Homo sapiens: one gene and its partners. The protein of the gene in region 2 interacts with the protein of the main gene of each other region in a biochemical or structural test. Each region holds a gene or a part of one and is shown on either strand. Other genes may lie near its edges.

The links.
Region 1: of the proteins of ZAP70 (region 2) and THEMIS, one has a biochemical effect on the other in vitro, tested with the Homo sapiens proteins (one study listed by IntAct).
Region 3: the proteins of ZAP70 (region 2) and SH3BP2 form a complex in vitro, tested with the Homo sapiens proteins (one study listed by BioGRID).

What each region holds. Positions count from the first base shown.
Region 1 is NC_000006.12:127,899,384-127,903,130, forward strand, and holds the start of THEMIS (protein THEMIS), read right to left. Parts: upstream 1,676-3,747; 5' UTR 1,550-1,675; coding exon 1,459-1,549; intron 1-1,458.
Region 2 is NC_000002.12:97,723,447-97,727,193, reverse strand, and holds part of ZAP70 (tyrosine-protein kinase ZAP-70), read right to left. Parts: intron 3,179-3,747; 5' UTR 3,158-3,178; coding exon 2,756-3,157; intron 2,103-2,755; coding exon 1,942-2,102; intron 1-1,941. UniProt on the Homo sapiens protein: Tyrosine kinase that plays an essential role in regulation of the adaptive immune response. Regulates motility, adhesion and cytokine expression of mature T-cells, as well as thymocyte development.
Region 3 is NC_000004.12:2,830,948-2,834,694, reverse strand, and holds part of SH3BP2 (SH3 domain-binding protein 2), read right to left. Parts: intron 3,125-3,747; coding exon 3,016-3,124; intron 2,773-3,015; coding exon 2,717-2,772; intron 2,365-2,716; coding exon 2,283-2,364; intron 1,706-2,282; coding exon 1,646-1,705; intron 999-1,645; coding exon 861-998; 3' UTR 1-860. UniProt on the Homo sapiens protein: Binds differentially to the SH3 domains of certain proteins of signal transduction pathways. Binds to phosphatidylinositols; linking the hemopoietic tyrosine kinase fes to the cytoplasmic membrane in a phosphorylation dependent mechanism.

The DNA of each region.
Region 1 (3,747 bases), on a different chromosome or scaffold from region 2:
GTTTGGGGGCAGCTAAGAAAAAAAATAAACTAATGGAATAGAAGAGATATTTTAGAGACAGACTGATACAGAGGTGAACATATAATATGATTTGAAGGAGGCAACAAAAATCAATGGCGGAAAGATTGTCAGCTTAGCAAATGGTACCTGGAAATCAGGTGAACTGTATAGAGAAAACTAAAATTGGATCCCTGTACAATTCATAACATTGTCCTCCAAATAGACTAAAAACTAAATGCAAAATATGAAACCGTAAAGTTGATAAAAACAACATAGGAAAATATCTTTTTAAAGTAGACATAAAGAAAGACTTTTTACGTAAAGCCTAAAAAACACAAACCATGAGACAAAAAATGATTTGGGGCTGGCTTAGAAATAGAGACATTGATAATATGATTATACACGGCAAAACATAGTCTGATTCCAAAAATCAACTTACAAATTAGTTAAATAAAACTGTACACTAAGCTGATAACAGCCCATATCAATTCATCACCTGCAAGTATGTGTGTGTATATTTTATATATATATATATATATATAATATATATAAAAACTGGAGCTGACGTGTTAATCTTTCTTTTACTTTGCAACATAATATGTAATACATTATTTTGTCTACGAACAAGAAAGACCTGCCTACCAACAGTTAAGTTATTTTCCTGGTAGTTTTGTCTTGATCTGTTTCTACAACTGCTTCAATTCTACCACTCTTGAGGCCAGAAATACACCTACAGAATTATTAATTGTATTCTATGTATTCAAACTAACCATGTAAAGATTCTAGGTTGTATATTGGAGGTTATAATGTTCTTTCACCTGAATTAACATAGTGAGTTACACCAAAACTCACTATCTTATTATTCAATAAGTTTAATTGAACTCTGAGTTTCAACATCAATTTTTAAAAATTATCTTGTAGCAATAATTTCTATACCTTCAAATTAAAATTTTCATTATTTAAGGAATTTGGAGTTAGGCCACTACAGAGTGAGAAAAACATTGGTATAAGCAACATTTAGGAGCTAAAAGTTTGGGAAATATTTGGAAATACTTCTTTCTAAACACTGTGCCTTTGATAGTTGCTTTTGTTTTAGCAAGCTAAATTTTATTTTTTATATTGTGGAAACATAAATATTGATAACTAAATTTATTATTCTTGATTACAACCAATTTCAAAGCAAAGGCAGAAATAGTTCACCATTCAAGGCCTACAGAAAGCTCAAGAAGCTTCACTCAATTCCTTATTTCTGTCTGTCCCAGAGTCCTGTCTAGTTTCTCCCCTCTCCAACACCATTGGCTTTTGACGATTCGTTGGTCAGTTCATTACTTTCTTTTGTGATCGCCTTTCCTTTACCAGAACTCACATATTTGCTGTTAAAATTCCCCCCCTCCAATTTTCAAAAATGTATACTTTACAAGAATGTTCTAGCCAGTAAAGGTATTGGAGAGTGCTTACCTTCAAGATAGATGCCTGCCTGGATTTCTAGAACCCTGGGTAGGGTCCTGAGGTCAAGGGAGTGGACGAATTCTTCCAGTGATAATGCCATTGCTATGCCTTGGGTAGTTTGTAGACCTGGTGCTCACAGAAACTTGTGGCTTCTGGGTGACACTTGTCTGCAATTGCAGCCCCTGCTCACCATTTCTTCCTCAGGCAGGCAGGAATGTCACACTACAGCCAGAGTGGGGTGGAGTAGCTCTATGTGGGGAGGACAATGAAGAGGGAGGGGGGAAGCAGGAGACAAAAAATGTTATAGCTCTTTTTGTTCACATTGTGGCTTCATTTCCTTCTGACATTGAAGTTGAACAGGATGGGGGTGGGGTGAACAGACACTGCCCAAAAAATGAGACGTGCTAAGTAGCGCATTCTGTCCTTTGTTAATCCAGGTGTGCATCTACTATGGTAGCAAAACTGAGGTCAGAGTTGCTTGTGGCTTGCCCACCAACAAAGAACAGGAATATAGGACTAAAGTCTAATCTTAAAAATGGCACCATGTGAATTCATTATCTCTCTAGTTCATTTCTAAAGCTTGGCTTTGTGCCTTATTTGCATACTGTCAGTGCCTTTACATTAAAATTGGTAATAAAAGTGCTTTGCGTCAGCTCTTTTTAGAATTCTGATACTATACTCTGGAGAGAGTATTGAAACCACTTTTTATTCTTCCACATTAAAAATTTTGCTGAATCTTAAAGGAGGGTAGGGTAGGGATAGAATATGCAAAATGATACAGTAAATTAACAAAGTACATTAAAATGAGTTTTCTAATCTCTACACTATAGTAGAAAGTATTAAAATTACTTGTCAGGAAACCTGCATTTTCTGGGTTTAGTTCTGCTTTTGATTTACAGGCTAACGTCAGCCTTGTCTTCTCTGATTTTCATTTGTTTTATTTACTAAATGGAGATGAAGTAGAAGAGTCCAATAAATTTTATAATTTCTTCCAAGTTCACAATTCCACAATTCTGATCTTATTGTTGAAATTTAGGAGGGGAAATGATCAGCACCAAAGGAAGCAGGAGAAAACTCATGAACATTGATCTCTTCAAAATCCTGCCCCTCTCTATTTTTTGCATGTAACTGAAACAATATTTAAAATATATACAATTAAAGGTGGTAGTTCCTAAGTCTCTTTAAGGTAAAGTAGAAGAATATTGGTTGAGGCTGGGTACGGTGGCTCATACCTGTAGTCCCAGCACTTTAGGAGGCTGAGGTAGGAGAATTGCTTGAGCCCAAGAATTCAAAACCAGCCTGGGCAACATAGTGAGACTTTGTCTCTACAAAAAAATTAAAAAATTAGCCAGGCATGGTGGCACATGCCTGTAGTCCCAGCTGTGAGGAGGCTGAGGAAGGAGGATCACTTGAGCCCTGGAGTTTGAGGCTACAGTGAGTTGTGAACATGCCACTGCATTCCAGGCTGAATGACACAGCAAGACTCTGTCTCAAAAAAAAAAAAAAAAAAAAATAAAGAATACTGGTTGGTATGTATACACTTGAAAGATGACAGGAATCTACACGTTTTCTTTAGTAACCAAACCCAGGCACTTATCTATTAACTGTTTTGGCCTTAGGCTGCAGAGAGCATAGCCACATACAGAGGGTCAGGGGACATCTCAGTTCTACCATGGCCATCATGTAAATGACCTAGAAAGATAAAAACTGCCTAGTTTTGATATGGAGCTTATAAAACTGTTTCAACTCTTTGTAATCCTATTTGACATTTTCAATAATCAGTCCAGCTTCATTTCTTTCTTTATAAAAGTAGAATTTACGATTGACCACATCAACAGGTTTACTATCATTAGATTCAAATTCCTCACTGGCAACTTTTTTGTCCAAAAATGTCCTACCCTTGATCTGTCTGCCTTCCATACCCCTCCCCACAGTTTACAGCCTAGTAGTGTATTTCATGTGGATGAATACATGAAAGAGGCTTCTGTGGACTGCTCCTTAAAAATTATGAATCCGTTAGAACTGATGCCACAATACATTTCATTTGATATCTAATGCAAGCTGGATATCACTTATTTTTTTAATATTCCCAAGTCAAATTTCTATCCTACTAGCCAAACAGCCATTTCGTATCACCAATCTCTTACAATTACCTAGGCTCCATCTGCTTCTGCTCTCGCGACAGATGACGCTCTCTCTGTGATAATCATCTTCGTATTCTCAGTCTTAATTAATGACACTGCTATTCTCTTAGTTTCCCAAGCCGGAAGGCTTAGAATCATGTGAGATGCCATTTTT
Region 2 (3,747 bases):
CTTGCTTTGTCCATTAGGACATCAGTGACATTACACAAACAAAGGCTTGAACTTGCCCTGTCCTCTCTGACTGATCTTGGGAACCCTGCACCACCACCACACAAACAAGCTTCAGCTAGCTTGCTGGATGATGGCTGCACTGGGCCAGCTCATCCCCATCACCCAGGTGACACTGAGCCAATGGCCAGTCATGTGAGTGTGGCCATCCCAGCCTATTCAGGCCCAGCCTAGATGACCCAAACCAGAACTGCTTAGTTAGCTCACAGAATCATGAAGAGCAATAAACTGTCATTTTGAGCCAATAAATCTTAGGGCTGCTTGTTATGTAGCAAAAGCTAACTGATACAAATGCAAAGGTTTCCTCTTAGAGAAAACAGCCCTGTCCTGTTCAGAAGTTGTGCCGGCAACTGAGTATTACGTGCAACATGTATCTAAGAGCTCCCTCAGAAGCCTTGGAAACTCCACTCCAATTTACAGCCTAAATCTGAATCTGTATGGTAGGGTGAAAAGAGTTATTTTATCAGCCCACAACAGAATCTTGGAGAGGGAGCTGCATCTTGCAAGAGGCCTGCAGGCAATCTACAGAAACTTCACATGGGTGAGGAAAATCAAGGGATGTGGTCATTTCCTCCAAGTGGGTTGACCTCAGGAGAGGAAACAGCCCTGGGGGAGGCAGATGACCCAAGGGATCTGCTGGGCAGGGGCTCAGGCCAAGAAGCACTCACGAGAAGGAAGGCCCAAGAATTGTCCCCACAGATTTCTTGGGGGAAAACACTGGGCTTCCTGAGGTCATGGGAAAGAGGCAGCACCAATTTATCTGTGTCTTGAGGCCTGAGTGACCTCAGCTGCACCTGGATACCATCTGTTACAGAAAAGATCCCGTGTCCAAACCAGAGAGCAACAGCCCCAGCAGGGCTGTCAAACACTCAGCAGAGTTTTAAAAAGAGATTTTCAGAGATTTTTTTCACATTAACAAACTCACAAATAGCTACATGGCCTCAGCTGTGGCTCAGACACGCACGTTCACCCACATATAAAAGCTAACATTTACCGCATTTTTCCTATGTCAGTTACCATACTCTCGATTCACACGTATTAATTCATGTAATCCTCATAGAGGATCCTGAGGGGAGGTACTGCTGTCAACCACAGGACAGTTAGAGGGGGCTGCTTCAACACTCTCCCGGGGATCCCACCTCACTTGGGGGAAAAGCTAAAGTCCCCGCCCTGCCCTCACCTCCTCCCATTCTCCCCCTCACTTACTCAGCTCCAGGCACATGGCCTCCACAATGTTTCTGGAACACGCCAAATAGACTCCTGCCTCCTGATCTTTGCACTTGCCATTGCATTTTCCAGGAACACCCTTCCCCCTGAAAGCTGCACAGCTCACTCCTCAGCTTCTTTCCCTTCCTCAGAAGTCACCTTCTCAGGAAGGCCTCTTCTGACCACCTAATCTAAAATTGCAACCGCCTCCCCACCTGCACACACGGCGCTTACCACCATCTGACAGGGTCTCTATTTTATTGATTCCTTTTCTTGTCTACCTGCCCCATGAGGACAGGCACTGTGTCTTTTTGGCTCACTGCCGTGTGCTCAGTGCCTGGTACACAGTAGGTATTCAGTAAATATTTGTTGATTGAAGGAGGGGAAACTGAGGCAGGCAACCACAGTCCGCTACTTGCCCAAGGGCCACAGCCAGCAGGTGGCGGAAGCGGGATTCCAAGCCAGGCCAAGGGACCGAGTCTGGAGGCTTTCCTAGTCACTACCTCTACTTCCCCATGTGCAAGTCCCTTTGCACATCAGAAACACACAACCCACTTGCACATGTGAGCACAGGGACACCCTTACGGCCCAACTGCACACTCACGTCTGCCCCAGTCCCCAGGATCCCTGCCAACGAGCCCCAATCCTCACCGCACCCAAATCCCGGGCCCCACATACAGGAACTTGCCGTCGGTCTGCGCCCCAGAGTAAAGTTTGCGCTCGGCCTCCTCACGCGTCAGGCTGCTGTGGTACCAGGGCATCCGCTCGTGGGCCGTCGTAGCAATGAGCTTCTCCACCTGCGGGGCCTGGCTGATGATGGCCTGCTCCAGGGCCTCGCCCTAGAAAAGGAGAGGCGAGGAGGTCTGTAGGTGTGGCCAAGTGCTCGCCACAGGAACCCCCTTCCGGGAGCCCTGTCCCAGAGGACTCCCCACCCCACCCAGGCGTCCCTAGCGCGTGTTAGGCAGGTTTTCGAGGACTACCTCCGCGCCATCTCCGTGGTCCCCTCCCCAATCCAGCTAGGGAGGAACCACCCCCACCTTCCAGCGCGGCCCCAAGCGCATCTCCAGCTTGAAGACCTAATTCAGGTAGTTGTGCATGGTGGTGTCACTCAGGCTGTGGACGACTACTGCCCATCTTCCCCAACAGCCACCCTACCCTAAGGGCTCACCCTAGCCCCGCGCACCCTCCTCTCAGCCCCGCCCCCATTCCAAGCCTCGCCTTCGCCCGGCCCAGTGCGTCCCTCTACCTTCCCATCTGGCATAGTAGAGCACCATAGCATCGCTCAGCCTGCGGAAGGCGACCGCCACCACGGAGCCCCTGCCTCTGAGGCCTCCTTTCAGGTTCTTCCCCAACCAGTGCCCCACCTCTCCAGCTTCCAAAGGGGACTGAATGGGGAAGACGACCTTTTCCTCCCTCCTATCCCCCCAAAACCCTCGACTGCCCCTCTTCGGCCACGCCCCTCCAGACCCCGCGCCCCAGGCTGCGCTCTCACCTCCAGCTTCCACGTCTGGCGCACGTAGTCACGCACCATGGCGTCTCGCAGGCAGTCGAAGACCCCCGGCTGCGGCTCGAGGCCCGACGGCCGGTTGCACGGCTTGCGCAGGTTGCAGGGCAGCCCGTCGGGGTCGCGCGAGTAGAACTCGCAGAGCTCTGCCGGTCCACAGTGCGCTTTGCCGCCGGCAATGGCGTAGGTGCCGTTGAGCTGGCGCTCGATGGGAAAGTGGTGGAAGCGCACATCGTGCACGAGCGACAGCACATAGCCGCCCAGCGAGCGCAGGCACTGGCGCAGCAGGAAGAGCCCGTCCGCCATGCCCGCCAGCTTCAGGTGCTCCTCGGCCTCGGCACGCGAGATGCTGCCGTAGAAGAAGGGCAGGTGCGCCGCGGGGTCTGGCATCGCCCCTGGGCCTCCCGAAACCTGCGGGTTCACAGAGGGTCGGAGGCACGTCAGGGCCTTCCTGAACCTGGTGCGTTGGGCCCAAAGACGGCGCGAGAGACGCCAAGTGGAGGGCATCAGTGCCGCAGACTGAGCTCGCCAAGGGGGCAGAGCCTGCTCTGTGCCAGAGTCAACCTGGAGAGAAGCCGCAGCCTGCTGGGCACAGATCGAGAAGTCCCAAACCCCCATCTGACTTTCCAGAGACATTATGTGGACGCCCAAGCACGCCAACTGGTCCCCAAGCACCCACACCTGTACCCATCTCTTCATGTCCCAACCACGTGCTGAATTATTGTGTTTCAGGCCCGGTGCTGGGGATATGCACGCTTGAGGCAGGCGCGGTCCCACCCCGTCCTCCCGAAGGCAACACTCTAAGGAGGGAGAGCCGTGAGATAAACTGAGAAAGAAACAAAAATAATAATTACAGATTGAGGTCAGCATTACAAAGGAAATAAGTGGAGTGACATTAAGAGAGAGAAGAGGTGGCTCTAGCTAGGATGGTCACCTTCTCCAAGGAGCTAGCATTTGAAGGGAGAGCTGAAGGAGGAGGA
Region 3 (3,747 bases), on a different chromosome or scaffold from region 2:
CTGTAGCTGCAGGGCCTTCTAGCTCTGTAGCCCGCTCAGTGTATGCAAGTTCTGGAACGGGGACAGCCACTCAGGAGGTACCCAGTAACCAGGCACTAATGCAGGGAATGAAGCAGCTGTAGCTGCAGGGCCTTCTAGCTCTGCAGCAGCACTGCCCTGGCCTGACCTGAGGCAGCAGAACTGGTGAGTGGGGTGTGGGCTCCCAGCCCAGACTGCCCAAGTTTGGGTCCTGATCTGTTACTCGCTGTGCACCCTGGGGAAGTCACTCAGTGACCTGCACCCTGGAAGACAAGACAACCAACTGTTGGGGTTCCCGGGTACTGCTGCGGTCACCACTTAGACATCAGCATGGGCACCCAGTAAGCTGGTAATCCCCTCCTTCCCAATCAAGCCCCAGCCACCAAGGCAAAGCTCACTGCTGCTTTATTGGAGGCAACAGCCCCTACTGGAGCCTGTGTCTTAGCGTTCCTGGGGGTCCCAGGGCCAGCCCCGGCCCCCACCCAGCTGCCCTGGCCCTGCCTGGCTCCCAGCCCACTTAGGGGTGAGTGTGATGGGGGGACCAGTGTTCCTGTCCTTGGAGCCCAGGCACAGCTTGGTCCTGGGTTTCTGGGATTGGGACAGGGCAAGTTAGTGTGGGGCAACAGAGTCCCTTCGTCCTCTGGAGCCTGGCGCCTGGTTCAGCCCTAGAACCCAACCTGCTGGATGAGACTGGCTGGGTCCTACGAGATGTCCATCACAGAGGCCCTAGGCAAGCACAGCCTTGCTCCTGCTCACCCTCCCATGTGGGCCCATGTCCGTCTGTGTGGCCTGGGGTCAGGGCCCCTGTGACTGCCTTGGCCTGGCAGCCACATGGACTGCCATCACCTAGGCCCAGTGTAGCCGTAGGGGTGCCGCAGCAGCAGGCTCTGGTGGCTGGGCAGCACGTGGGTGTGGTAGTGCTCCACCATGCTGCCCACACTCACAAACAGGACCTCGCCCTCCAGGTAGAACTTAGAGTCCTGTGGGGGAAGAGAAGGGGGAGCGTCAGCAGGGCCAGGCCACTCTGCGGCTCTAGGCCTCAGTCTCCCCGTCTGTAAAACAAGGCAGCAGCATCAACAGCGGCATCACCAGGCTGGCCCCTGGCTGTCGGTGGTGCCCCCAAGGTGGCCTCCGCATCAGGCCTGTGCTCTCCATGTTCCCACCTCACTTCCCCTCCGTCCTCCATGTCCAGGAGCCTGCACCCAGAGCACTTCAGACAAGGTCAGGAAATGAACCTAGGCCAGGCACGGTGGCCCACGCCTGTAATCCCAGCACTGTGGGAGGCCGAGGTGGGAGGATTGCTTGAGCCCCAGAATTTGAAACCAGCCTGAGAAAGACAGTGAGACCCCTGTCCCCGCAAAAAGAAAAAGACAAGACAAGCAACCCAGGGTCTATGGCTGACCGCCCATCCCCACTAGGGTCAGTGGAGGACAAAGGTAGGCCACGAGAGGAGGGAGGCTGAGCAGGAGGGGTGGGGGGTGAGCGATGGTGGAGGGGAAGGGGAGGGCGGTATCCTGGAGGTGCCAGTCTCAGTCTACCCGCTGCCTATGCCTCATCAGGGAGATTCTGCCCTGCCCCTTGCCAGGCCATGCGGCCAGGGTCCCCGTCCCACTCAGAGCCCTCTCACCTTCTCAAAAATGCGATAGTTCCTCACTTTGTTAGAGGTTTCGTCCCACACAACCAGGACCTACAGGACGGAAGCGGGAGGCTGACGGCTCCCTGAGAAACAGCGGGACCAGCCTCGGGAGACCATGGGCTGGGGATAGGGGGGCAGAACCATCAAGGCTGGGTCCTGTGGCCCTCGGGGGGCGGGGAGGGACTCCAGACCACCTGCACAAGGACAGCGGGGGCGACACTGGCAGCCCTCAGAGAGCCTCTGATGAGCAACAGCTCATAACCACCAATAACCACTCCGACACACCCGGGAGAGCATGGCTCAGTGAGGTCACAACTTCACGCTCGGAGGGACACGGGCAGACCTGGCGTTCCCCTGCCCCATGTGGCCTCCGCCACCCCAGAGCATGAGCCCTACCCCACCCGAGTCCTGGCCCCCACTGGGAGGTGGCCATCATGGCCCCCAATTTGCAGATGGAGATCTATTAGGGAATAGATTGGGGGGTGCTGCTGGGAAGAGAATTCAGCTGAGACACCAAGTAAGAGTCCACAAGGGGAGTGGTTTAGGAACTGTGGAGTCCTGGGCCCACCCACAGCCTGGGTGTGTGGAGAGCCAGAGGGGCCCTGGGGCATCTTCCCCTGGCGCCTACCTTCCCCGACTTGGTAGAGGAGTTCCGGATGCAGTAGAGTCCATCCTGGGGCTCTCCCCGGGGGCTTGTAGCCTTGAACAACCTAAAATAAGACAGTCATATTAGCGGGTGAGTCCTCCTCGGGCAGCTTTCACACGGACCTTCCCGCCCCGCTCCCAAGCCTGGCTTTCTGTCCTCTCGCTGTTGTAGGTCTCAGGAGCTGAGCACGTCGGGCTGCCGTGAGGCTGACAGAAGCAGCCCAGCAGAGCCCTGGCCAGCCAGGGTGCCAGCTGGGCATGGGACAGAGCAGGGAGGTCCACTCCTCTGGTTTCTGCTGCACGCAGGGCCATGAACTTGTGCCAGCAACTCCCCAACACGGAAGCTAGTGAGAGGGACACAGAAGCAGGAAGCCGGGCATGGCGGAGGACCCAGCACACACAGGGCTTTGTGCTGACCTTTCCACTTCGCAGGACTCCGTGGTGTTGACGAAGACCGAGTTGGGCAGTGGCACCTGCAAGAGGCTGACGGTGTCAGTGCCAACGTCGGAGTGATCCACCCGCACCACCACTCCCCGGACGGTGGCCACCCGGTGCCGGGATCCGGGGCTTTACATGGTGCTGTGTCCCCCTAGGCTCCCGGGTTCTCGGGGGGTCCTTGCTCAGGACGGTCTGTGAGGGGCCGCCCTGGCCTATGGCTTTCCCACCACCTGTCCACCTACTGGCCACTGGGACCCAGGCTTGCCGCTCAGCCTTGCCTTCTCATAGTCCTCGTCCGAGTCGTCCCCGCCAGTGTCAGCCTGTGAGGGTTGCCGGGGCTTTTCAAAGGAGAAGCTCCTGAAACTCTGCCCATCGGGGGGTGATCGCCTGGAGGGGCAGGGAGAGGAAGGCAGGACCATTTCACTGTCAGACACGGGGCGGCCACCCTCTGCTCCCCTCCCCACTCCACCCTCTGTGTGAGGACGGCAAGCTGCCTGCTATGGCCCCTGTGACCCTAAAAAGCTCAGGACAACAGAGATCCGGGTAGGGCTCGTGCCGACTGCCCTGGGACAGCAGGAATCGCCCGACACCGGAGTCAGGGGTCAGGGCTGCCATGGATGCTGGCAAGGGAGTCCAGGGTTCCCAAGCTCAGTGTCATCACACCGTCAACAAGTGCTCTGGATGCTCGTGGGGAGGGGAGGTCCGGTCATGGCCAAATCACAGCCCACTCAGAGCCACAGGGGAGTGGACGTGAACTGGATGAACAATGCAGTGTGACCCCAAAGGACGCCCATGGCGTCCCTGCACGCCTCCCTGTGTGGCTAGCCGGTCCTGCTCAGCAAAGCCTCAAAGGCTCTAGGGAGGATTAACGGGCCACGCCAGCATGGGAGGCCAGCCTGTGGGTGAGGCTGAGCCCTGGAACCGCTATCCCCACAGTCATGGAAAAACGTGACTTCCGAACATCTGCATCTCTGCAGCCCTTGGTGAACTAGAACCACGAGTGTGACAAG